7 linked regions of the Homo sapiens genome follow. The protein of the gene in region 3 binds, or shares a complex with, the protein of the main gene of each other region. Each region holds a gene or a part of one and is shown on either strand. Other genes may lie near its edges. The genes, in order: PRPF31, SART1, LSM3, SNRNP40, SNRPF, PRPF3 and TXNL4A.

Region 1 (3,230 bases), on a different chromosome or scaffold from region 3:
GCTGGTTCATGCCTGTAATCCCAGCCCAGGAGTTTGAGGCTTTAGTGAGCTTCATCGCATCACTGTACTCCAACCTGGGCAACAGAGACCCCGTCTCTAAAAAACCCAATCATAACAGGACCTGGTTATAGGGCGCTGATGGCAAGTCCCATGCTAAGTGCTTTCTGTGCATTCTTTCCAGTCCTGGGCACCTGGGCGTAGGTGTGGAGGCTTGGAAAGGTGAGGAGGCTGGCCTGAGGTGGACAGCAATCCCGGTCGGCCTGCGCTGAGATCTGCGGCTGTTGGCAGCCACATCATTTGCTATCAAAGTGACTGCGGCTCTCCAGGGGGTTGGAGAGGGCTTTTTCCTTCTGGGATCCCATGACGAGAAAGTAACGGGGAAGGGAGTGGGCCTAGACACCGCTTGGACCCGAGGGCCAAGCTCTTTTCTCAAAGCTCCACAGCTCTGATTCTTCTAGTTGCCCCGGCTGTTTGAAAAATGATCACTCCCCAAGGACAGATCTTGACAATGTCCTTTTAATTGTACTCTTTTCAAAAAATCTCCTTTCTCAGTTAAAAAAGACAAGGCATGATGAAGACCTGCTCTAGCCCATACTGGGCGGTGATCTCGGTCCTGGGGGAGGCCAGGCCGGACTCTTCCAAGGCCTCCTCCCTGGGCAGTCCCAGCAATGGGGCCAGTGGCAGGGCAGGTTCTCCCTGCCAGAACCCGATCCTAGCCCTTCAGAAGGACTGGACCTCTGTGTCCCTTCAGTGGGAAGCCACCTTGGACACACGCAGTCATTCAGGTGGACATAAGGCCACTCTTCTCGCCCTTGACCTTGAGGAACTCAGCCATGCTGGAGAAATACTTCTGGTTGGCCTCAGCCACCTTCTTCTCTGCCGCCTGTGGGTTCACAATCTCCAGGCCCTGGGCAGGTGAGGGAGAGAGGATGATGGGTTAGGTGAGGAGAAGGCCCCAACTGTGACCCATCAGAGCCCCCCAGGCCCTTCCCCATGGCACTCAGGCCTTGGTGGGCATGAGACAGTTTGCCTGTCCCTGGAGTTGCCCTGTCTTGGGAGATTCTGACTCAGTGGGTCTAGAGGGAGAGGGTGGGGAGGAACCAGGGCGCCTGGATTTGTACGAAGTTCCTCAGGGGTGCTAAAAACAACCAATGCTTGAGGACAGCCAATCCTGCCCAGTTTCTGCATAAGGAAACTGAGTCCCTGGGGGACATGGCTGGCCCGAGGTCCTAGCACAAATCACACCAACACCACTGACGATCATAGTGGCAGCAATGGGAGCCAACACCTGGCTGGCACTTCCTAAATATTTTCAAGGCAACAGAGCGAGCCCCCGTCTCTAAAAATAATAACAGGACCCAGTCATTGGGCTCTAATGGTGAGCCCAGTGCCAAGTGCTTCCTGTGCGTTCTTTTCAGTCCTGAGCACCTCATGATGGAGGAGGGGAGGCTTGGAAAGGCACAGCCACTGGCCTCATCTTCTCAAAGAGGCCCTCCCTGGCTGCTCCGAAACGAGAGCCTCCCCTGTCCCACCTCCTACCTTCCACCTCCTCCCCTCCCTGGCATTTCTGCCTTCTTTTTTTTTTTTTTGAGACAGAGTCTGGCTCTGTCGCCCAGGCTGAAGTGCAGTGGCGCGATCTCGGCTCACTGCAAGCTCCGCCTCCCGGGTTCACGCCATTCTCCTGCCTCAGCCTCCCAAGTAGCTGGGACTACAGGCGCCCGCCACCACGCCCGGCTAAGTTTTTGTATTTTTAGTAGAGACGGGGTTTCACCGTGTTAGCCAGGATGGTCTCGATCTCCTGACCTCATGATCCACCTGCCTCGGCCTCCCAAAGTGCTGGGATTACAGGCGTGAGCCACCGCGCCCGGCCTGGCATTTCTGCCTTCTACTACACTGGGCATCTTACTGAGCTGTCTGCGCCCGGCCTGGCATTTCTGCCTTCTCCTACACTGGACATCTTACTGAGCTGTCTGCGCCCAGCCTGGCATTTCTGCCTTCTCCTACACTGGACATCTTACTGAGCTGTCTGCGCCCGGCCTGGCATTTCTGCCTTCTCCTACACTGGACATCTTACTGAGCTGTCTGCGCCCGGCCTGGCATTTCTGCCTTCTCCTACACTGGACATCTTACTGAGCTGTCTGCGCCCGGCCTGGCATTTCTGCCTTCTCCTACACTGGACATCTTACTGAGCTGTCTGCGCCCGGCCACCCACTGGCTCCAAGAAGGTAAGACTTGTCTCTCATTCGTTGCTTCATCCCCAGAGCCGGGAACACTGACAGAACTCAGCAGGTGCTGCGTAGACACCCGCTGACTGGGCAGATGAGCTCGCTGCTGTCTCGCCTCCGTGGTGCAGGCTCGCCCTGCTCTGTGGATGGTAAACCGAGGCTCCGACGATGCGGTGACTGCCATGCTCCACGCTGCTCACTGCTGACTGGCTGGGGCCTGGACCCACACTTGACATCCAAGCCCGCCTAGCCGGGAACTTTCTCGAGTGGGGTCCTGAGGTTACCTTAACCGTCCTGGCCGTTTTGAACTGGAGGGCCTGGAGGCTGAGCAGTGTTACCCGCTCACAGCCCGACAGAGGAACTGGGTGCCCTGAACACAGCTGTGGGCCTGGTTCTAAAGCAGTGCGTGCTCACGAGGACTGCTCAGCGCTGGGCTCTCGTCTCTGCTAACCTCTTCCTGTGTGCCAGGAGCTGTCTACGTCCTCTGCATACCTCGTCACCACACCCTCCACAACAGCCCCATGAGGAGACTCATCCTGGCCTTCTTCACAGGGGCAGAGGGCAAGGGGCCTTGCCAAGGTCTCAGGGCTGGGGACAGAGCCGGCCCAGGGGAGGTACCTGGAGTGGGGTGAAGGCCACGCTGGAGGCCGTGCCCGAGGAGCGGTCGCGGATGGTGGACTTCCCGCCATATACGACGCTCTGCTTCTGCAGGGTCCGCTGTGGGGAGGACAGGGAGGCTGCGATCTGGGCTCCCCCCACCTTGTGTCCCTCGGTCCCCAGCCCCACCTGGGTCTGGCCCATACCTGCAGCGTCTTGGAGATCCTGGCCTTGGTGGCCTCGTTTACCTGTGTCTGCCGCACACGCCCACTGCCCGACTTGCCCAGGTGGCCCAGGCTGAATCCCAGGTCCTCCTGGTAGGCGTCCTCCTCGATCTAGGGGGGAGAGGAGGCGCCCTGCAGTTCAGCGACCAGGCCCTGCCCTCCAGCCACCGAGGCACCCCCTCCA
Region 2 (3,500 bases), on a different chromosome or scaffold from region 3:
TTTCACAAAGGAGAGGTTCTGTTGATTTCCCCCTGAGTCTAAACTGGGTAATGAGGGACATAACAGAGAATGATGGGTGTGAGGACAGGGCCTGGAGTCGTGATGTGGTTGAAGAATTACTGGATTGAAGTTAATACAGTCAATGAGCTAGAAAGAAAGGCTGGAGAGAACAGAAAGGATCCTTGGAATTGAGGGGTTGTTTTGTTTTGTGATAGTGTCTCACTTTGTCACCCAGGCTGGGGTGCAGTGACTCTATCTCAGCTCACTGCAATTTCCACCTCCTAAAGGTGCTCTGTCCACATACAGTCATTGGGGGTTAGGGCTTCCCGATATGAATTTAGGGGTTACACAATTCCTAGATAGGACAATATATTGTCAAGATGTCCATCTCATGTAGTTCATTTCTAGGTTAAATGCAACTCCAGTAAAAATCCCAATAGGGATTATTTTGGAAGCTGGAAAATGATTCTGAAATTGGATAAAGTAGGGGCATTGTGGCAGTGTGGGATTGCATAAGGATAGACTAACAGAACAGAGAGACCAGACAGCGGGGCCCCGAGACAGAATCGTGTCCCAGTGGGAAGAGTCGCTCGTCAGTGCAGCGAGTGGGCGTGGGACAGTCAGTTATCTATTTGGGGAAAAAATGAAATTGGGTTTATACCTCACACCTTGCAGATAGATTAAGAACTTCAAAGTAAAAACTTCACATTTCGGAATCAAATTAAGGAAATTACATTTATAACTTTTTGGTAGAAAAGATTTTTTAAGTTGTCAGCATAGCCAAGGCAGGAGAATTGCTTGAGGCCAGGAATTTGAGACCAGCCTGGGGCAACACAGCAAGACCACCCCCCCTACCAACCCCATCTCTAAAAATGTTTTTTTAATTAGCTGGGCATGGTAGCATGTGTCTGAAGCCTCAGCTACGCCGGAGGCTAAGGCAGGAGGATTGCTTGAATCTAGGAGTTCGAGGTTATAGTCAGCTATGATAGACTATAGCTGACTATATCACAGATAGCTATGATAGCCTGGGTGATAGAACAAGATCCTGTCTCAAAAAAAAAAAAAAACCAAGAAACCCACAGGTTCCATGGGTGAGTTTCTTCAAGAAACCATGAAGAAAAAAGTGAACGTGTAACTACATAGAAATTGAGAACGTGGCCGGGCGCGATGGCTCACGCCTGTAATCCCAGCACTTTGGGAGGCCAAGGCGGGCGGATCACGAGGTCAGGAGATGAGACCATCCTGGTCAACACAGTGAAACCCTGTCTCTACTAAAAAAAATACAAAAAAATTAACCAGACGTGGTGGCGGGCACCTGTAGTCCCAGCTACTAGGGAGGCTGAGGCAGGAGAATGGTGTGAACCCAGGAGGCGGAGCTTGCAGTGAGCCGAGATCGCACCACTGCACTCCAGCCTGGGTGACAGAGCAAGACTCCGTCTCAAAAAAAAAGAAATTGAGAACGTAAGTTTTTTGTTTTTTGTTTTTTTACAAAACATACCATGAAGAATATAAAAAGGCAGACCAAAAAGAGAAGATATTTGCCCATATATACCACCAAGAATGGGTTGGTGTCAAGAGTATACAAACAGACAAAACAAATCAACACAACAGGAAAATAGGCGAAAGATGTAGATAAGACAGGCAGTTCACAGAAGAGAAAGCCTAACTCACCAGGAAAATACCCGGTGAATCCAGTTTCAGGAGGGATCACAGAAAGGTGAACCAAAACAGTGAGGCACCTGCCACCTGCCAACAATTCCGCAGAAAGGTCCAAGCCTGACAGTAGCGAGTAGGAGTAAAGGACATGGAGCGGCCAGAGTCCTCAGCCACGCTACTCACAGCCATGGGCAGGAGTCTAATCAGATGAGAGGGAATGTGTGCGTGCCCGGGGCCCACCCCACACCTCTCCCGAGTGTGCCCATGTGCACCAGGAGACATTGTCAGTGGGCCTGCAGCCGCAGTACTTGGGACAAAAAAAGTCCATCCTCAGTGGGCTAGAGAGCCAGATCAAGGAGCATCCAGCTCACGGGCTGTGATTCCATAGTGGAAACTGATGAGCTACAGCCGTGTGCATCAGGGTTACTCTCAGGGGCACAGATTTTTTTACAAAACAAATCACAGAAGAGTCATACAGTGTGACTCAGGTTATAGAATAATTAATACACAACAAAATAACTGTTCAGGGGCAGGTCCTTATGTGCTAAAGCCATGAAGACAAGCCGGTGAGTCATGACCATGGATGGGGAGGGGACACTCAAGTCTGGGCAGGGCATTAGTGATGCTGCCCCAGCCCCAGGGAGAGGGACATGGGTGTGTGTTTAGTTAATGTTTTAAAAACTATATCAGCCGCTGGGTGCGGTGGCTCACACCTGTAATATCAGCACTTTGGGAGGCCTAGGCAGGTGGATCACAAGATCAGGAGATTGAGACCATCCTGGCTAACATGGTGAAACCCCCTCTCTACTAAAAAAAAAAAAAAAAAAAAAAAAAATTAGCCGAGCATGGTGGTGCATGCCTGTAATCCCAGCTACTCAGGAGGCTGAGGCAGGAGAATCACTTGAACCCGAGAGGTGGAGGTTGCAGTGAGCCAAGATCGTGCCACTTCACTCCAGCCTGGCCAACAGTGAGACTCTGTCTCAAAAAAAAAAAAAAAAAAAACCATATCAGCCGGGTGTGGTGGTTCACACCTATAGTCCCAGCACTTTGGGAGGCTGAGGTGAGTGGATCACTTGAAGCTGGTTTTGGGACCAGCCTGGGCAACATGGTGAAACCCTGTCTCTACTAAAAATACAAAAATTAGCTGGTTGTGGAGGCATGCACCTGTAGTCCCAGCTACTTAGGAGGCTGAGGGAGGAGGATCACTTGAACCTGGGAGGTGGAGGTTGCAGTGAGCCTATATCGCCCCATTGCACTCCAGCATGGGTGATAGAGTGAGATGGTCTCAATAAATAAGTAGCATATGATGCATTAGATATACCTCGTTTTATGTTTACAATGTTCATTAAAAAATAAGTGTTCCTGGCCAGGCGCGGTGGCTCACGTCTGTAACCCCAACACTTTGGGAGGCCAAGGCAGGCAAATCACGAGGTCAGGAGATGGAGACCATCCAGGCTAGTACGGTGAAACCCCATCTCTACTGAAAAAAAATACAAAAAAATTAGCTGGGCGTGGTGGCGGGCGCCTGTAGTCCCAGCTACTCGGGAGGCTGAGGCAGGAGAATGCTGTGAACCCAGGAGGCGGAGCTTGCAGTGAGCTGAGATCGCGCCACTGCACTCCAGCCTGGGCGACAAAGTGAGACTCTGTCTCAAAAAGAAATAAAAATTAAAAGACAAACAAACAAACAAATGTTCCTGGATGTCCTGGAAGACTTTTTTTTTTTTTTTTTTTGGAGACAGGGTATTGCTCTGTTGCCCAGGCTTGAGTGCAGTGGCAAGATCACGGCTCACCATAGCCTCGGCCTCCAGGCTCAAGCAATCCACCCACCCCAGCCTCCCAAGTAG
Region 3 (3,500 bases):
ACAGTAGCACGATCTCAGCTTACCGCAACCTCTACCTCCCAGGTTCAAGTGATTCTCCTGCCTCAGCCTCCCGAGTAGCTGGGATTGCCAGTGCCTGCCGCCACGGCCGGCTAATATTTTGTATTTTTAGTAGAGACAGGGTTTTGCCATGTTGGCCAGGGTGGTCTCGAACTCCTGACCTCAGGTGATCCACCCGCTTTGGCCTCCCAAAGTGGTGGGATTGCAGGCATGAGCCACTGCACCCAGCCTTTTTTTTTTTGAGACAGCGTTTCACTCTTGTTGACAAGGCTGGAGGGCAATGGCACAATCTCAGCTCACTGCAACCTCCGCCTCCAAGATTCAAGCAGTTCTCCTGCCTCAGCCTCCCAAGTAGCTGGGATTATAGATATATGCCACCACACCCAGCTAATTTTTTGTATTTTTAGCAGAGACAGGGCTTCACCATATTGGTCAGGCTGGTCTCGAACTCCTGACCTCAGGTGATCCACCTGCCTCAGCCTCCCAAAGTGCTAGGATTACAGGTGTGAGCCACCATGCCTGGCCAGGTTTTTTTTTTTTTTGAGACGGAGTCTCGCTCTGTCGCCCAGGCTGGAGTGCAGTGGCGGGATCTCGGCTCACTGCAAGCTCCGCCTCCCGGGTTCACGCCATTCTCCTGCCTCAGCCTCCCAAGTAGCTGGGACTACAGGCGCCCGCCACTACGCCCGGCTAATTTTTTGTATTTTTAGTAGAGACGGGGTTTCACCGTTTTTTTAGCCGGGATGGTCTCGATCTCCTGACCTCGTGATCCGCCCGCCTCGGCCTCCCAAAGTGCTGGGATTACAGGCGTGAGCCACCGCGCCCGGCCCAGGTTTTTTTAATGAATAAATATTTAAAAAATTTTTCAGTTTCAGTTTCTAATAAATTAAGTATTAATAGATCAAATCCACAGAAAACGAAAGAACACTGTCCACTATTACTGTTACACACTATTATACATAGCCACCTTGCATTGTTGTATCTCACTGAATCTGGGAACCCTATGAGGTAAGTGGTAGTATTCCTGCTCACCAATGAGAACTCAGCTAACTTAATTCCCTTGCCCAAGGTAGCCCAAGTAGGAAGTGGTCAAGCCAGTACTGGCAACAGGGTCTGTCAGATGCCAGAACCCTTGCTTTTAATTGCTATGCTCTACTGAGTCCATAAGTAGGTGTCAAAACATGACAGGCTTCCCATAAATATGGGTTAAGCTGTTCGAGAGAGAACAGCTGATATTTGCAAAGCAATGAATAGAATTGCATGACTTACTTTATATATCTCTTCATATGTTTCTTCATCAATTTCTATAGTAGTCACAGTTTCTTCCACATCTCCCAAGATCATATTTAAATGTTGATCATAAGCCTAAAGTGGGAGGGTACAGAACCAAGAAATTTAATAATCAAATTACAAAAATGATAAAGGCTTAACAATATGCAAATTGCTCAATTACAACTAGGGCATTTGATACTTACATCACAAACTTTTACATGCAAATAAAAAGTAATCCTACAGTACTAATATACTGTTTCTTCACAAGTCACTTCCAATGATTACTTAATTGACCTGATAAAAATATAAAACTGCTTATATTGCCAAAAATAAATTTACTTCAAATCACTTGAAATTATTTTTAAAGTCTCCACCCCACTTGTTATCTAAGGCAGTCACATCATTTATAATATTTAATTATGAAAAACAGCAGATTCATCTTCATCATTTATCAGTAGACATCCTTCAATTTCACCTATAACAATCTGACAAGAAAAATACAGTAAAGAAGATAAAATCCTTTGTTTACTGGTAAGATAATGCCATTGCAGTCTTCTAAAGGCACACAGTAGACCACATGTCGCAGAGAGAAAGTAAGTAGAGCAACACCCTGCCCATTTCTAACCTATCCAGAACTTAAATGTGTTTAGTACCTGTGGGCTCAATCAATAAATGTTACAGCTAAGATATTCAATCCAAGCTCCAAAGTTCATTCATTTTACTAAAAGGTGCACTTTCTGGGACCTTGTTCAGAACTCAAGTTTACTTCTAACAACGTGTTACATGGTTCACCTGCTCACATCAAAATAAAAGTCACTTGTCAGCCATGTGGGGAACTGCTAAGCAGGGCACACTAACAAGATCAAACATGTATAGCTGAGAGGCACAAAACAAACAGAAAGTTGGGGCCATTTAGGATAGAGACCATCAAGTTTACACAGGGAACTGAAGAAGCCTCCAAGAGCCACAAACTTAAGTAATTAAACTCAATTCCATTTGTATTCCCAAAGTTACCACCATTCCTTTCCTGGAGTCTCTCTTCCTTTAAGGCCAGCTGTAGATTGTCTCCCTGGGTCCCTATTTCCTTTCCAAGCCCAGAGGTTCTTTATCTTTAGGTTTTGTGGAAGGCGGAACCACAGTACTTAAGAGTGGGGCTCAGGTCAGACAACCTAGATTCAAATTCTGGCTCTCCCTTTACCGTCAAGTGACTGTACCTTTCTGAGCCTGAGCTTCCTACACTGCAAAGCAGGAATAATTAGTATGTATCATCATAGGGTTGTTATAAAGATTAAATGAGATATCACACACAAAATGCTTAGAATAATAGTACCTGGTCTATAATTAATGCTCAATAAATGTTAGCTATTTTTAATCACTTTAGGGTAGAGTAGCAATACTAAAAACAACACACTTAGGAAAGTAACAAGTCATTAAGGAGAGGCAAAACCTTCAGGGTTCTCTATGAACAAATGGGATTATTTCAAGGGACCAATTCTACAGATATTTTGCAGATATGCACAAAGAAATATGTAAAAAAATGCTTACTGCAAGTATTTACGTATTTGTAGCAAGAAATGAAAAAAAATCGATCACTATCATATACAGAATCCTAGGTAGTCATTAAAAAGAATAAACGAAAATTAAATGCACTCATGATCAATTTCCAAGAAAGATTAAGTGAAAAAAAAAAAAGGTACTGAAAAACATGTATGGCAAGATCCATGTTTTGTAGAGGTAGGGTGTACATAATGCAAGTATGTGCACATGTACATATATGAGTGTATATGTGTAAACATACAGAAAAGGTAACCCAATTTTTAAATTTTATTTTTTGTAGAGACAGGGTCTCTCTATGTTGCCCAGGCTGGCAACACAGAGAACTCCTGGCCTCAAGTGATCCTCCTGCCCCAGTCTCCCAAAGTGCTGAGATTACAGGAATGAGCCACTGCACCTGGCCAAGATAATCCCATTTTTAGTAGTGATTACCAGTAGAAGAAATGGGATTTCACTTTTTACTCTATATATTTTTGTGCTGTTTAACTTTTCCTAATAAAACACATATTTGTGTTTTAAATTTAAAAAACATTTACGAATGGAGGACAAGTAAATATTATTTACAAATAAACAGAAGGGAAAAATGAAGGGAATAAAAATGTTCTATAATAAACGTATTTCTATTAAAAGAAAAAATGTTAAAAATGTGAATACATGCC
Region 4 (3,500 bases), on a different chromosome or scaffold from region 3:
AGAGGCCTCCTGGGCACCCAGCTGAAATTAGTATCATGTCAATCAATGGCAGATGCTGTTTCCTCGGTGGGCAAAGTCCAACTTGACATACTGCTACCTGTTAAGGCTCTTTTCTTTTTCAAGCAGGAAAACACATCTAAATCCCAATAACTGGGGCTAGCTGAGGGGGCAGGAAGGAAAAATGTCACACACAATGTTGGTAATTTGCAACAGAATGCAGTTGGGTGTGATACTAATTTCAAAAAGATATTTTGCAAGATTTCTCTGCCAGCTTAGTCACATCCAGCAAAGCTTCAATGTGACAAACTAAATACCAGGAACTACTGTGACAATGAACTTATAAAAGCCAAACTTACATCGCCCTTTCCTAATTTCCCTCATATGGGCACCTGATAGTCTAAGACTGGACAAGGTCAGATATATATAAAATATATAAAAGGTCAAATAAATCAAAAAAGCACTGTACCATACCAAAAATCAGAAAAAGTAAACATTGATTCTATCTCTGTTACATATTTGGGTGATGTCAGGTAAACAGTGAGATTGTTTGTGTCTTGGTTTTTCTGTTCTGTAAAATGAAGAGAAAATTATCTGTCTTCTTTTTAAAATAATATTATTGACTGATATGATTGAGATGGAGTTTCGCTCTTGTTGCCTAGCCTGGAGTGCAGTGGCGTGATCTCGGCTCACTGCAACCTCCGCCTCCCAGATTCAAGTGATTCTCCTGCCTCAGCCTCCCAAGTAGCTGGGATTACAGGTGCCCACCACCACACCTGGCTAATTTTTGTATTTTTAGTAGAGATGGGGTTTCACCACATTGGCCAGGCTGGTCTCAAACTCCTGACCTCAGGTGATCTACCCTGCCCAGCCAATAACACTATTTTAAAGATCCAATGAGATGATATATGTGCAAAGGTTCTAAAATTTGTAGGCAACAAACAAAAATAAAGAATTTGTAATTGTATTATGCAGCCACAAGAAATTATTCTATTATTTTTTCCTTATTTTAGTATCAATCTAGGAAACCTCATTGTTCCTCATAAAGAACGCTAGAATTAGCTAGGCATGGTACTTGGGAGGCTTGCCTGGGCCCAGGAGTTTGAGACCAGCCTGGGCAACACAGCAAGATCCTGTCTTATCAAAAAAATTAAGGAAAAAATATTTTTTTAATGCTAGATTAAATGTGTATAAACATCTATTGTAAGCAGTAGCTATAGCCGTTGTAACTGAAGCTATACCTATAGTGGAATTTCAGTGATGTCATTTTATTTGAGTATGAAAAAAGTATTATCAATCCTTGGAGTCAGACAGGCATAAAAAGGCAAAGCTATGCGTGAAAGTTTGCCATTGAGAATATAGTTAAAAGGTAAAGATGTCCATTAATTCAACAAATATTTATTAAGTACCCAATGAATGTCAGGTATTGTTTTTGTTACAAAATGTCAGGGAATACATTTTAGTTCCTGACAAGCCTATAATTTTGTATACCAGGGCCATTTCCAAACTCCCTCAACATTAAGCATATAATCCAGCAAGTCACCTTACTTTTTTTCTGTAGTAACCCATCCTCCCACCCTACAACTCAAAAACAAGTAAAGAGAAAGAGCAAGAGTGTGTTCGTGTAAATCCAGAATGTTTTAATGAAGACCTCTTCCCACACCAATGCTTTCAGAGTGGGGAGGGAAGACAGACTGGCAGGAAAGAGCAGAAGAGATCATCCAAGCTTGGTGCTCTCTGAAAACGCACAAGAACTGCCTTGAATAGACTTCTAGATTCACATCTTTTTCATTAAACTCATCACCTAGAGTTTCTAATATCCTGTTGGATACACAGCATACCAGAGCTGAGATGGGTCTTAAAGGTAAAGTCCAATCTTCTTATCAATGTAGAAACTGATGCCTAGAGAGAAGAAATGCTGTGTGCAAAGTTGTTCAGGGACAAGACAGAGATCTGAGACTACAGTCCTAGATTCTTGACTATCTCACCTAAAGCTTTCCCCATTACAACACATTCTAATCGTCTGATGGAATCTGTGAGCAATCTTTGACTTTTTCCTTGGATCCTGGGAGAGATTTCCTTTCCAAAGTTACCTGTATTGTCCATTGCATTGGACAAAAGATAAGAGCCTTCAGAACTTAAACTCAGGCCAGTCACTGAATCTGCATGGCCTCTCATGGTGTAGGTTAGCTTGTTCTGGCGCAGGTCCCAGACCTGCAAAAACAGAAAGGTGCCCCCAGAAATCAAATTAATAAAAGCAGAGAAAGAGAATGACACAAGAGACAAGAGTCAATTGCCCAGAGACACTGATATTACTCTACTATAAAACACAGGATTTCTGTCAAAGAGAAAAACACCTTTTTTTAATTTTCATTTTTTTTTTGAGACAGCGTCTCACTCTGTTGCCCAGTGCAGTGGCACTATCATGGCTCGCTGTAGCCTTGACTTCCCGGGCTCAGGTGATTCTCCCATCTAAGCCTCCCCAGTAGCTGGGACTACAGGAGCATGCTACTATACCCAGCTAATTTTTCTGAAGAGACAGGTTTCACCATGTTGCCCAGGCTAGTCTTGAACTCCCGAGCTCAAGCAATCCTCCCACCTCATCCTCTCAGTATTTGGATTAACACGCATGAGCCACTATGCCTGGCCAATCTCTGTCTTTCTAAAAAGGTAGCTCAGGCTACCACGTTTGACTAGATAAATATAAACGAATGCATATCAAATGTTAAGATAAAGTTTTACACACAAAAAAATAGAATTCAGAAAGGTTATTTTCAAATCATAGCAAAGAAAAACTATTATAGAAAAAAACTAAAAATGGCTATGATTCTTAGCCATTAAAAATTATTATAAATACATAAAACGAACATGTCATTTAAAAAAGGCATTATGATTACATGTTTGTGTAACAATATGAAAAATACAGATGCTTAAAATTTTTCTTTTAATGTAACAATATGTGACAATAAATGTATATATATGTACATGTATGGATATGTACATGCACATACACTATGGAAAAGCACATTTATTAAAATAAAAATAAATTACAGGTTCACTATTGCTTGTATAGGAAACGTAAGATACAGAAAATAACCTAAACGTCAAGCAGGAAAAATAGGTGGTTTATTAAATTATGGTTCATAAGCACATTGCAAAACTGAATTCTCATACAGGAGATAGCATGACAGAGTAGAAAGAGTGGTGACTTAGGGTAAGAATAAACTGTTCCTTGCCACTTAGAGTTATGTGTCATTGGGTCACTAATTCTTTCTGGGCCTGTTTCCTGGTCTGTAAGATTAGGGATAACAATAGCTACTTCTTACGGCTGTTGTAAGGATTATAAGAATGCTTAGCATATGCCGGGCACAAGACAGGTCCTCAATAATGTGTAGCTATTGTTAAGCAGTTCCTAAAAATAACTCAGAAGACCAAATGTAAAAATATTTACATAATAAGCTATTAAGCAAAAAAGGAAAATACAAAACAGTATTTATCTTTAC
Region 5 (2,344 bases), on a different chromosome or scaffold from region 3:
AAATTTTTTGCCCATTAAACAATAATTTTCCATTAAACAATAATTTTACAATTAAACATTAAACAATAATTTTCCATTCCTTCCTCCACCTAACTAACCCCTGGTAACCACTAGTCTACATGTCTATGAATTTGACCGTGCATAATACCTCATGTAAGTGGAATTGTGTATTATCCTTTTGTGTCTGGCTTGTTTGACTTAACGTAGTGTATTATTCAAGGTTCATCCATGTTGTAGCATGTGTCAGAATTTCCTTTTTATGACTGAATAATATTCCATTATATGGATATACCACATTCTAATCCATTTGCCTCTTGGTGGACACTGGGTTGCTTCCCTCTTTGGACTGTAGTAAATAATGCTGCTGTGAACATGGGTATACGAATGTCTGTTCCAGTCACTGCTTTCAGCTCTTTGGGGTATATACCCAGAAGTGGAATTACTGGATTACTGGTAATTCTATGTTTAATTTTTTAAGGAGGCCAAGCGTGGTGGCTCATGCCTGTAATCCCAGCACTTTGGGAGGCTGAGGCAGCAGATTGCTTGAGCCCAGGAGTTTGAGACCAGCCTGGGCAACATAGTGAAACTGCATCTCTACAAAAAAAATACAAAAACTAGCTAGGCATGATGGTGTGGGCAGCTATATTCCCAGCTACTCAGGAAGCTGAGTTGGGAGGATTACCTGAGCCTGGGGAGGTTGAAGCTGCAGTGAGCTGTGATCACTGCACTCTAGCCTGGATGACAGAGAAATTTTTTTTTTTCTTTTGAGTAACTGTCACACTATTTTCCACAGCAGCTACGTGGTTTTACATACCCACCAGCAATGCACAACGGTTCCAGTTTCTCCACATCCTCACCAACACTTGTTATTTTCTATGGGTGTTTATAAAATAGTTATTCTAATGGGTGTGAAGTGGTATCTTATTGTGGTTTTGATTTGCATTTGGCTAATGATGTTGAGCACCTTTTCATGTGTTTATTGGCCATTTGTTTATCTTTGGAGAAATGCCTGTTCATGTCTTTTGCACATTTAAAAAATTAGTTTGGGATTTTTTGTTGTTTTTTTAATGGTAGTAGTTTCCAGGCAGGTTTTTAAAGGCTATCAAGACAGGTGGTCAATCCAATCATGAATCCAAGGATTCCATACTTGTAAGCAGAGTACTAAAAGGAGTACTTAAGTAGGCAGAGAGCTATGATTTTCCTTAACTTAGGCAATTACCACCTGAGCACATGACATTAAGGCCCCCAAAGCATAGTTTGAGTGTGGAAAATTCCTTAAACAGGAGTCATTTACCAAGACCATAGAAAAATCTGGGAAGTATATGAATTGTGATGAAAATATTCTGGAAGTAGTGGTGATAGTTGCACAGGTTTTTGAATATACTGAAAACCACTGAATTGTACACTTTAAAAGGGTGAATTTTATGCTATGGAAATTAACATCTCAATAATAAAAGAATTACCACTTAATATTTGTTTTAGAATTAATATAGCTTGCTAGTGACCCTGCTAGAGTTGCAAAATGTCTGAGTAACCAACCACTTTGAGTAGTCAACCATATTGATACCAGTGTTTGAATTTGTTCACTCAGCAAATATTTATTGAATTCCATTATGTGCCTGGCACTGTGAATATAGCATTGAACAAAACAAAGTCCCTGCCCTCAACAGTTTATGGTTTAGTGGTGGGAGGTGGTAATATAATGTGATAATAGGCATGATAGATGCCATCCATGAAGAAAAGGGGGAAGACAGTATGTGCAATATTATATAGAGTAGCCTCTCTGAGGAGGCGAATTCTGGAAGATACCAGAATTAGTGTACAACTCAGTTGAGTATCTGGGGAAAAGCATCCCAGTTTGAGGGAACAGCAAGTACAAAGGCCCTGTGGCAGAAGCATGCTTGGTGTGTTCAAGGCACAGCAAAAAGGCCAGAGCAGATTGAGTTAAGGGACGAATGACAGAAAGTTAGGTTAAAATGGCGGCCATAGAGAGCCTGTTAAGTGATGGTGAAGAACATGATAGAAAGTATTTGGAACATTATTGTGTAATTTAGAAATGTTAAATGTTGTAATTACTTTTTACAAAAAATTAGTTGCTCTTAATACATTATTTCTTATAGCTGTTACATACAAACTGTCTCAACAACCTCGTATATTTCAGACAAAACTATATCATCTGGATAATGGAGATTACTTTTTGTTGTCTATAAGAAAGGGAGTAACATCCAGTAGTAGTGTTCATTACCATGTTTTTCATGCCTTATGAAACATCCTATTTTAATCCTTATTGTTAAGCCCTATTTTTCTTTTCCTTTTCCACGTGCCTAATTGTGAAGGAAACCTC
Region 6 (3,500 bases), on a different chromosome or scaffold from region 3:
TACCTGGCAAATGTAGAAAACAAAATTAGGGCCAGGTGCGGTGGCTCACGCCGGTAAACCCAGCACTTTGGGAAGCCTAGGTGGGCAGATCACTTGAGGTCAGGAGTTCAAGACAAGCATGACCAACATGGCAAAACCCTGTCTCTACTAAAAGTTCAAAAACTAGCCAGGTGTGGTGGCAGGCACCTATAATCCAAGCTACTCCGGAGGCTAAGGCCGGAGAATAGCTTCAACCCAGGGGGGTGAAAGTTGCAGTGAACGGAGATAGTGCCATTGCACTCCAGCCTGGGTGACAAAAGCGAAACTCCAACTCAAAAAAAAAAAAAAGGCCGGGCGCGGTGGCTCACACCTATAATCCCAGCACTTTGGGAGGCCAAGGCTGGCAGATCACCTGAGGTCAGGAGTTCAAGACCAGCCTGACCAAACATGGTGAAACCCTGTCTCTACTAAAAATACAAAATTAGCTGGGCGTGGTGGCACATGCCTGTAATCCCAGCTACTCAGGAGGCTGAGGCAGGAGAATTGCTTGAACCCAGGAGGCAGAGGTTGTGGTGAGCTGAGATCATGCCGTTGCACTGCAGCCTGGACCACAAGAGCGAAACTCCTCCTCAAAAAAAAAAAAAAAAAAAAAATAGAAGCAACTTTGTTTCCCAGTTTCAACTTTGGGAAACTAACAAAAAGCCCTTTGGAATTAGCATCCCTCACAGTGGGTAGTGGAGCATATCGCATCTAATAACACACCAACCCAAGAGTTTGGCTCTTGCATTTGCATTTAGCTGTGGATGCCACAACAACATGTGGTTCTATAAAAGGAGCAAGCTGAGGGCTCTTTCCTAGGAACAACCAGGGAACTGTAAATGTAAAGCTTCATGAAATTTTGGGTTTTTTTCTTTCTTTCTTTCTTCTTTTTTTTTTTTTTTTTTTTTTGAGACAAGGTCTGGCAGTATCATCCAGGCTGGAGTGCAGCAGCACCATCTCAGCTCACTGCAACTTCCACCTCCCAGGCTCAAGCCATCCTCCACACCTCAGCCTCCCAAGAGGCTGGGACTACAGATGCACACCACCATGCCCGGCTGATTTTTTATTTTTTGTAGAGATGGGGTTTTGCCATGTTGCCTAGATCTCGAACTCCTGAGCTCAAGCAATCTGCCCACCTCAGCCTCCCAAAGTGCAGTGATTACAGGCATAAGCCACCATACCCAGCCAAATTTTTTTTCCTTGAGATGGGTCTCACTGTGTTGCCCAGACTGGTCTTGAATTCTTGGCCTCAAGCAATCCTCCTGCCTTGGCCTCCGAAAGTGTTTGGATTAGAGGCATGAGCCACCATGCTTGGCTGTCTCATGAAATTCTAAGCACAGGAATATGCACTTAAAATGTATGTTCACTGGTCAAACAACAAACTATTGTCAGGAAAAAAACTGAATTAAAAAAAAGAATTACACATGGGTAGTGGCTATTGTATTGAACAGCATAGATACAGAACATGTTCCTCACTGTATAAATTTCCAATGGGTAATGCTGCTCTAGAGACTTGATTCAGGAATCTATACATTACCTGGAGGATTGAGCTGGGCTGGATGTTCAACAAGATTTGTGATTCCAAAATAATCTTCTCTCTTGGGATTTTCCTCTGTACTAAAATTGTAGGAAGAAAAGAAAACACGATATGCGGGTAGAGATGATTCTAAGAGAGGAGTCTCAGAAATACAATGAAAAAACCCACTCTCTATAATGGGTTCTTGTGCTTGATATACCTAAAATAGCATTTAGGTACCTAAAATATATAGTTAAATTACACATAATTTTCATGATGAGAAAACTGAGTCCCTCTATGGTTGAACACACTCTCCACAGCAATCATTCTCAACCTTTTTTCTACCATGCCACAGCTGACAGACGCTATGTTCTCTCATTAGTGACAATAAGTCCCTGGAACAGTGGCTGACAAAGAAGGGGCAACGAAAGGCTAAGACAAAATCTACTAAAGCCATGTATCAGAATGATGGAGCAGGGCCAGGTGATGTGGCTTATGCCTATAATCCCAGCACTTTGGGAGATGAAGGCAGGTGGATCACCTGAGGTCAGGAGTTTGAGACCAGTTTGGCCAAATAGTGAAACTCTTGTCTACTAAAAATATAAAAACTGGCCAGGTGTGGTGGTATTTGCCTGTAGTCCCGGATACTTATGAGGCTGAGCTAGAAGAACTGCTTCAACCCAGGAGACAGAGGTTGCAGCGAGCCGAGATTGTGCAACAGAGTGAGACTCTGTCTTAAAAAAAAAAAAAAAAAAAAAAAACGCCAGGCGTGGTGGCTCATGCCTGTAATCCCAGCCCTTTGGGAGGCTGAGGCGGGTGGATCACCTGAGGTCGGGAATTTGGGACCAGCCTGACCAACATGGAGAAACCTCGTCTCTACTAAAAACACCAAAAATTAGCCAGGCGTGGTGGTGCATGCCTATAATCTCAGCTACTTGGGAGGCTGAGGCAGGAGAATCACTTGAACCCAGGAGGCGGAGGCTGTGGTGAACCAAGATTGCTCCACTGCACTCCAGCCTGGGCAACAAGAGCGAAACTCCGTCTCAGGAAAAAAAAAAAAAAAATGGATGGAGCAGATATATTTAAAGCTCTTCAAATGTGTCTTATATCCTTTTTTTTTTTGAGACAGAGTTTCACCCTGTTGTCCAGGATAGAGTGCAGTGGTCATGATCATAGCTGACTGCAGCACAGACCCTCCTGGGCTCAAGTGATTCTCTCACATCAGCCTCCTGGGTAGCCAGGACTACAGGCACAAGCCACCATGCCCAGCTACTTTTTTTTTTTTTTTAATCTTTGTAGAAACGAGGTCTCACCATATTGCCCAAGCTGGTCTTTAACTCCTGGGCTCAAGCAATCCTTCAGCCCTCAGCCTCCCAAAGTGCTGGAATAACAGGTGTCAGCCACCGAGCCCAGCCTTATATGCTATATTTACTATTATCTCACCTACCAACTAATAATCCTTGCTCTATCACAATGAGATCTTTAGGAAATGTAAACACCTATAATACGTAGCAAAAGAATGTAATTAAGGAAAATAATGCTAAAAACAGGCAACAATGTGTAACAGAGCAAAAAGAATTCTAGACTTTGCTTTTGTAGATTGTGTCCCTGGTTATCCTACATTAACCCCAAAAGCTAAAAACAGCCTATATATATGATACATCACTTACAAATGCAGGAGCTTGGCCAGGTGCAGTGGCTCACGCCTGTAATCCCAGCACTTTGGGAGGCTAAGGTGGGCGGATCACCTGAGGTCAGGAGTTCGAGACCAGCCTGGCCAACATGGCAAAACCCTGTCTCTATCAAAAATACAAAAAGCAGATGGGCATGGTGGCACACACCTGTAGTCCCAGCTACTTGAGGGGCTGAGATTCAAGGAGAATTCAAGGAGAATCTCTTGAACCCGGGAGGTGGAGGTTGCAGTGAGCTGAGATCGTGCCACTGCACTCCAGCCTGGGTGACAGAG
Region 7 (3,500 bases), on a different chromosome or scaffold from region 3:
CTGGATGACAGAATCAGCCTAACCCACAGGAGACGGGGCGGCAGTGTGGTCACGGGGTGGCAGGGAAATATCTGTCCTTAGAGAATTCCATGTGTAAAGAGAAAGACACAAGACCAGCAGCCAGGTCTCAGATCCAGCACCAGGGCAAGGAAGCAGAAGTGCAGGACAGTGGGGACCGATGCGCAGGTGGACTGGCCCACAGAGGACCTTTTCCACTTGGGATTCTGGGCCATGTATTTATTTCTAAGAAAGCAGGAATTGAAGAGTTCAGTTTTGTATATACTGAGTTTGAGAAAACTAAGGGACATCCAGAGAAAAAGGCCCTCCAGGTAGCGACTGGCCTGGAGCTGTACAATGGAGTCTGGGCTGGAGAGAGCTACCTTACTGCCGCCACCTACATCCAGCAGTGATCCCAGCCAGGGTGGCAGGTGCCAGGCTTGGGAGTGAGTGCAGAAGCCCACTGTAGAGTTGGGGGCAGGAAAGGGATGCCAAGGAGGCAGTCTCAGAAACCAAGGCAGGAGACTCCGGGGAGCTGTGCCGAGTGCCCCAGAGAGGTTACCAGAAAGGACGATATGGGAACGGGGACACTGCAGGGGCTGAAGGACTGAGGAACAGAGGACTTCAGTGTGGACAACTTTCAAAAGCCGTGGCTATGGAGAGAGAGGGAAGTTACTGTGGGACTTGGGAGTTCAGATAGGAGAGGCTGAAAGAGGCAGGCAGAGGGGAGCTCCCCAGCCTCCCACCACCCCATTTTCTTGGTGAAATGGCATCTGTGGGGTGACTGGAGGAGCATGAGCTGAGGGCAAACATCAGCAAACATCCAGCAGCATCTGCTGGTGGCGACATTTCCACGGTAACCAAGCGCTTGGAGGAGGAGCTGGGTGAGTGCAGCCACACTGCTCTGCCAAGTCATCCTGTGACTTCCTCAACAAAGGCAGCTTTTTCTTTTCTTTTTTAGATGGGATCTCACTTTGTCACCCAGGCTGGAGCAGAGTGGCGTGATCTCGGCTCACTGCAACCTCTGTTTCCCAGCCTCAAGAGATCCTCCCACCTCAGCCTCCCGAGTAGCTGGGATTACAAGCGCCCACCACCACATCTGGCTAAGTTTTGTATTTTTAGTAGAGATGGGGTTTCAACATGTTGGCCAAGCTGGTCTCGAACTCTTGACCTCAGATGATTCGCCTGCCTCGGCTTCCCAAACTGCTGGAATTACAGGTTTAAGCCACGGCGCTGGCCTCAAATTGTTTTTAAATTCTTTGATTGCCTTGAATTGTAAGTATCTTTTCCAACTCTGTTGCCTATACACCTCATAAGCATGCTTTTTCTTTAGGCAAGTCAGCAATTAAAGTGCTCAGCAGTTCTTCCGCATGCCTCTAAGTCCACCTGCCAAGTTACAATGACATAACTCTGCAAAACACATGACCAAACTGGCACATGATACCAACCACTGTTCTACACTTTTGTATGGAGTCCCTCAACCAGCTAAGAAAACACCTAAAATTCCGGAAAAAGTGTTCTGGGCAGTTGATTAGCACAACAAATTTTTGAAGTGTTTATTTTTACATTTTTAGGTAATTCATGTCAAAGCCATAAAAAAAACTGAAAAACTTGACTTTCTAAAATTAATGTTTGCCTTAATCAGCTCTCACAATAACTTGCAAACTTAGTAATGTGAGAGAAGTAATCACAGTAATAACAGTGGCATTACTGCCCATGTGACAGGAGTGCTCTAGAAACCTTTATTAATCCCACCACAACCCTATGAGTGAGGCACAAGTATGCCCTTTTTACAGGTAAGATGACCCACGGGGCCAAGTTCGTAACGCTCATGCAGTTATGAAGTGCCAAGAGCCTAGCTAGAGTCTGCACCCTCAACCGCCGCTCAACACCACTCCTCATACCTTGTGGCTAGAGTCTGCACCCTCAACCGCCACTCAACACCACCCCTCATACCTTGTGGCTAGAGTCTGCACCCTCAACCACGGCTCAACATCACCCCTCATACCTTGTGGCTAGCTACAAGGCTGTTTTTTTTCCAGAGACAAAAATCCAGAGGAAACACCAAAAATATCCATTCTGTTTGTTTCTACAAGATTCCTCATCTAGCTGAGTGTTGACTCTCACTGGTTCAGTAGGCGTTCTGTGATCCTTAATGTGATACTTAAGATACACCCCTTAATATGGCTCCTATGAAGTTCCATAAATATATATCTGCCTTACACACAATTTATTAGAATGTACTATCATGGGCCAGGCATGGTGGCTCACACTTGTAATCCCAGAATTTTGGGAGGCTGAGGTGACTGGCTCACTTGAGGACAGGAGTTTGAGACCAGCCGGCCAATATGGCAAAACCACATCTCTACCAAAAATACAAAAATTAGCAGGGTGTGGTGGTGGTGCAGGCCTGTAGTCCCAGCTACTCAGGAGGCTGAGGTTGCAGTGAGCCAAGATCGTGCCACTGCACTCTAGCCTGGACAACACAAGAAGACTCTTGTCTCAAACAAACAAAAAAAATGTACTATCATGAGTCAATAATATTACTGAGGAATTTTTTTGTTTTGTTTTTAGAGATGGGGTCTCGCTCTATCACCCAGGGTGGAGTGCAACGGCACGATGATAGCTTACTGCAGCCTTGACCTCCTGAGCTCATACTCTGTCTTAGCCTCCTGAGTAGTGGGGTTACAGGCACATGCTACAATGCCCAGCTCACTGAGACTATTTTAAACTCTATTTGCGTGGGCTTTTTAACACAAAAAATAAACGTCCCATTCAGTCTTCTCACCCATCATGGGATTTAGGTAACAGTGAACCCCAAGCACTGCTGTGAGTGTTCCTACAAAATGGAAAGACAGCTCAAAGGCACATGAAATTGTCCCCTCTGAGAGCGTTCCTACAAAATAGAAAGACAGCTCAAAGGCACATGAAATTGTCTCCTGTGACGGCGTTCCCACAAAATGGAAAGACAGCTCAAAGGTCCATGAAATTGTCTCCTGTGACGGTGTTCCTACAAAATGGAAAGATAGCTCAAAGGTACATGAAATTGTCTCCTGTGATGGTGTTCCTACAAAATGGAAAGACAGCTCAAAGGTCCATGAAATTGTCTCCTGTGACAGTGTTCCTACAAAATGGAAAGACAGCTCGTACATGAAATTGTCTCGCTTCAAAACTGCATAAAATCAGCTGCTAAATAGAAAACTTTTTTTTTTTGAGACAGGGTCTCGCTCTGTCACCCAGGCTGGCATGCAGTGGCGCGATCACGGCTTGTCACAGCCTTGAACTCCTGGACTCATATCCTCCCACCTCGGCCTACCAAGTAGTTGGGACCACAGGCACATGCCACAACGCCTAGCTAATGTTTGCATTTTTTGTACAGACAAGGTTTCACCATGTTGCCCGGGCTGTTCTCGAACTCCTGGGCTCAAGGGAACCACCCACCTCGGCCTCCCAAAATGCTGGGACCACAGGCGTGAGACACAGTGCCCAGATGAAAACTTTAT

What was found.
Region 1: LSM3 (region 3) and PRPF31 share a complex: the UniProt entries of both Homo sapiens proteins name them as parts of the U4/U6-U5 tri-snRNP complex.
Region 2: LSM3 (region 3) and SART1 share a complex: the UniProt entries of both Homo sapiens proteins name them as parts of the U4/U6-U5 tri-snRNP complex.
Region 4: LSM3 (region 3) and SNRNP40 share a complex: the UniProt entries of both Homo sapiens proteins name them as parts of the U4/U6-U5 tri-snRNP complex.
Region 5: LSM3 (region 3) and SNRPF share a complex: the UniProt entries of both Homo sapiens proteins name them as parts of the U4/U6-U5 tri-snRNP complex.
Region 6: LSM3 (region 3) and PRPF3 share a complex: the UniProt entries of both Homo sapiens proteins name them as parts of the precatalytic spliceosome.
Region 7: LSM3 (region 3) and TXNL4A share a complex: the UniProt entries of both Homo sapiens proteins name them as parts of the precatalytic spliceosome.

Annotation. Positions count from the first base shown.
Region 1 is NC_000019.10:54,128,984-54,132,213, reverse strand, and holds the end of PRPF31 (U4/U6 small nuclear ribonucleoprotein Prp31), read right to left. Parts: intron 3,158-3,230; coding exon 3,029-3,157; intron 2,943-3,028; coding exon 2,844-2,942; intron 908-2,843; coding exon 782-907; 3' UTR 501-781; downstream 1-500. UniProt on the Homo sapiens protein: Involved in pre-mRNA splicing as component of the spliceosome. Required for the assembly of the U4/U5/U6 tri-snRNP complex, one of the building blocks of the spliceosome.
Region 2 is NC_000011.10:65,971,734-65,975,233, forward strand, and holds part of SART1 (U4/U6.U5 tri-snRNP-associated protein 1), read left to right. Parts: intron 1-3,500. UniProt on the Homo sapiens protein: Plays a role in mRNA splicing as a component of the U4/U6-U5 tri-snRNP, one of the building blocks of the spliceosome. May also bind to DNA.
Region 3 is NC_000003.12:14,181,817-14,185,316, reverse strand, and holds part of LSM3 (U6 snRNA-associated Sm-like protein LSm3), read right to left. Parts: intron 1,381-3,500; coding exon 1,285-1,380; intron 1-1,284. UniProt on the Homo sapiens protein: Plays a role in pre-mRNA splicing as component of the U4/U6-U5 tri-snRNP complex that is involved in spliceosome assembly, and as component of the precatalytic spliceosome (spliceosome B complex).
Region 4 is NC_000001.11:31,269,289-31,272,788, forward strand, and holds part of SNRNP40 (U5 small nuclear ribonucleoprotein 40 kDa protein), read right to left. Parts: intron 2,212-3,500; coding exon 2,091-2,211; intron 1-2,090. UniProt on the Homo sapiens protein: Required for pre-mRNA splicing as component of the activated spliceosome. Component of the U5 small nuclear ribonucleoprotein (snRNP) complex and the U4/U6-U5 tri-snRNP complex, building blocks of the spliceosome.
Region 5 is NC_000012.12:95,861,952-95,864,295, forward strand, and holds part of SNRPF (small nuclear ribonucleoprotein F), read left to right. Parts: intron 1-2,344. UniProt on the Homo sapiens protein: Plays a role in pre-mRNA splicing as a core component of the spliceosomal U1, U2, U4 and U5 small nuclear ribonucleoproteins (snRNPs), the building blocks of the spliceosome.
Region 6 is NC_000001.11:150,338,533-150,342,032, reverse strand, and holds part of PRPF3 (U4/U6 small nuclear ribonucleoprotein Prp3), read right to left. Parts: intron 1,636-3,500; coding exon 1,556-1,635; intron 4-1,555; coding exon of another isoform or gene 1-3. UniProt on the Homo sapiens protein: Plays a role in pre-mRNA splicing as component of the U4/U6-U5 tri-snRNP complex that is involved in spliceosome assembly, and as component of the precatalytic spliceosome (spliceosome B complex).
Region 7 is NC_000018.10:79,982,064-79,985,563, forward strand, and holds part of TXNL4A (thioredoxin-like protein 4A), read right to left. Parts: intron 1-3,500. UniProt on the Homo sapiens protein: Plays a role in pre-mRNA splicing as component of the U5 snRNP and U4/U6-U5 tri-snRNP complexes that are involved in spliceosome assembly, and as component of the precatalytic spliceosome (spliceosome B complex).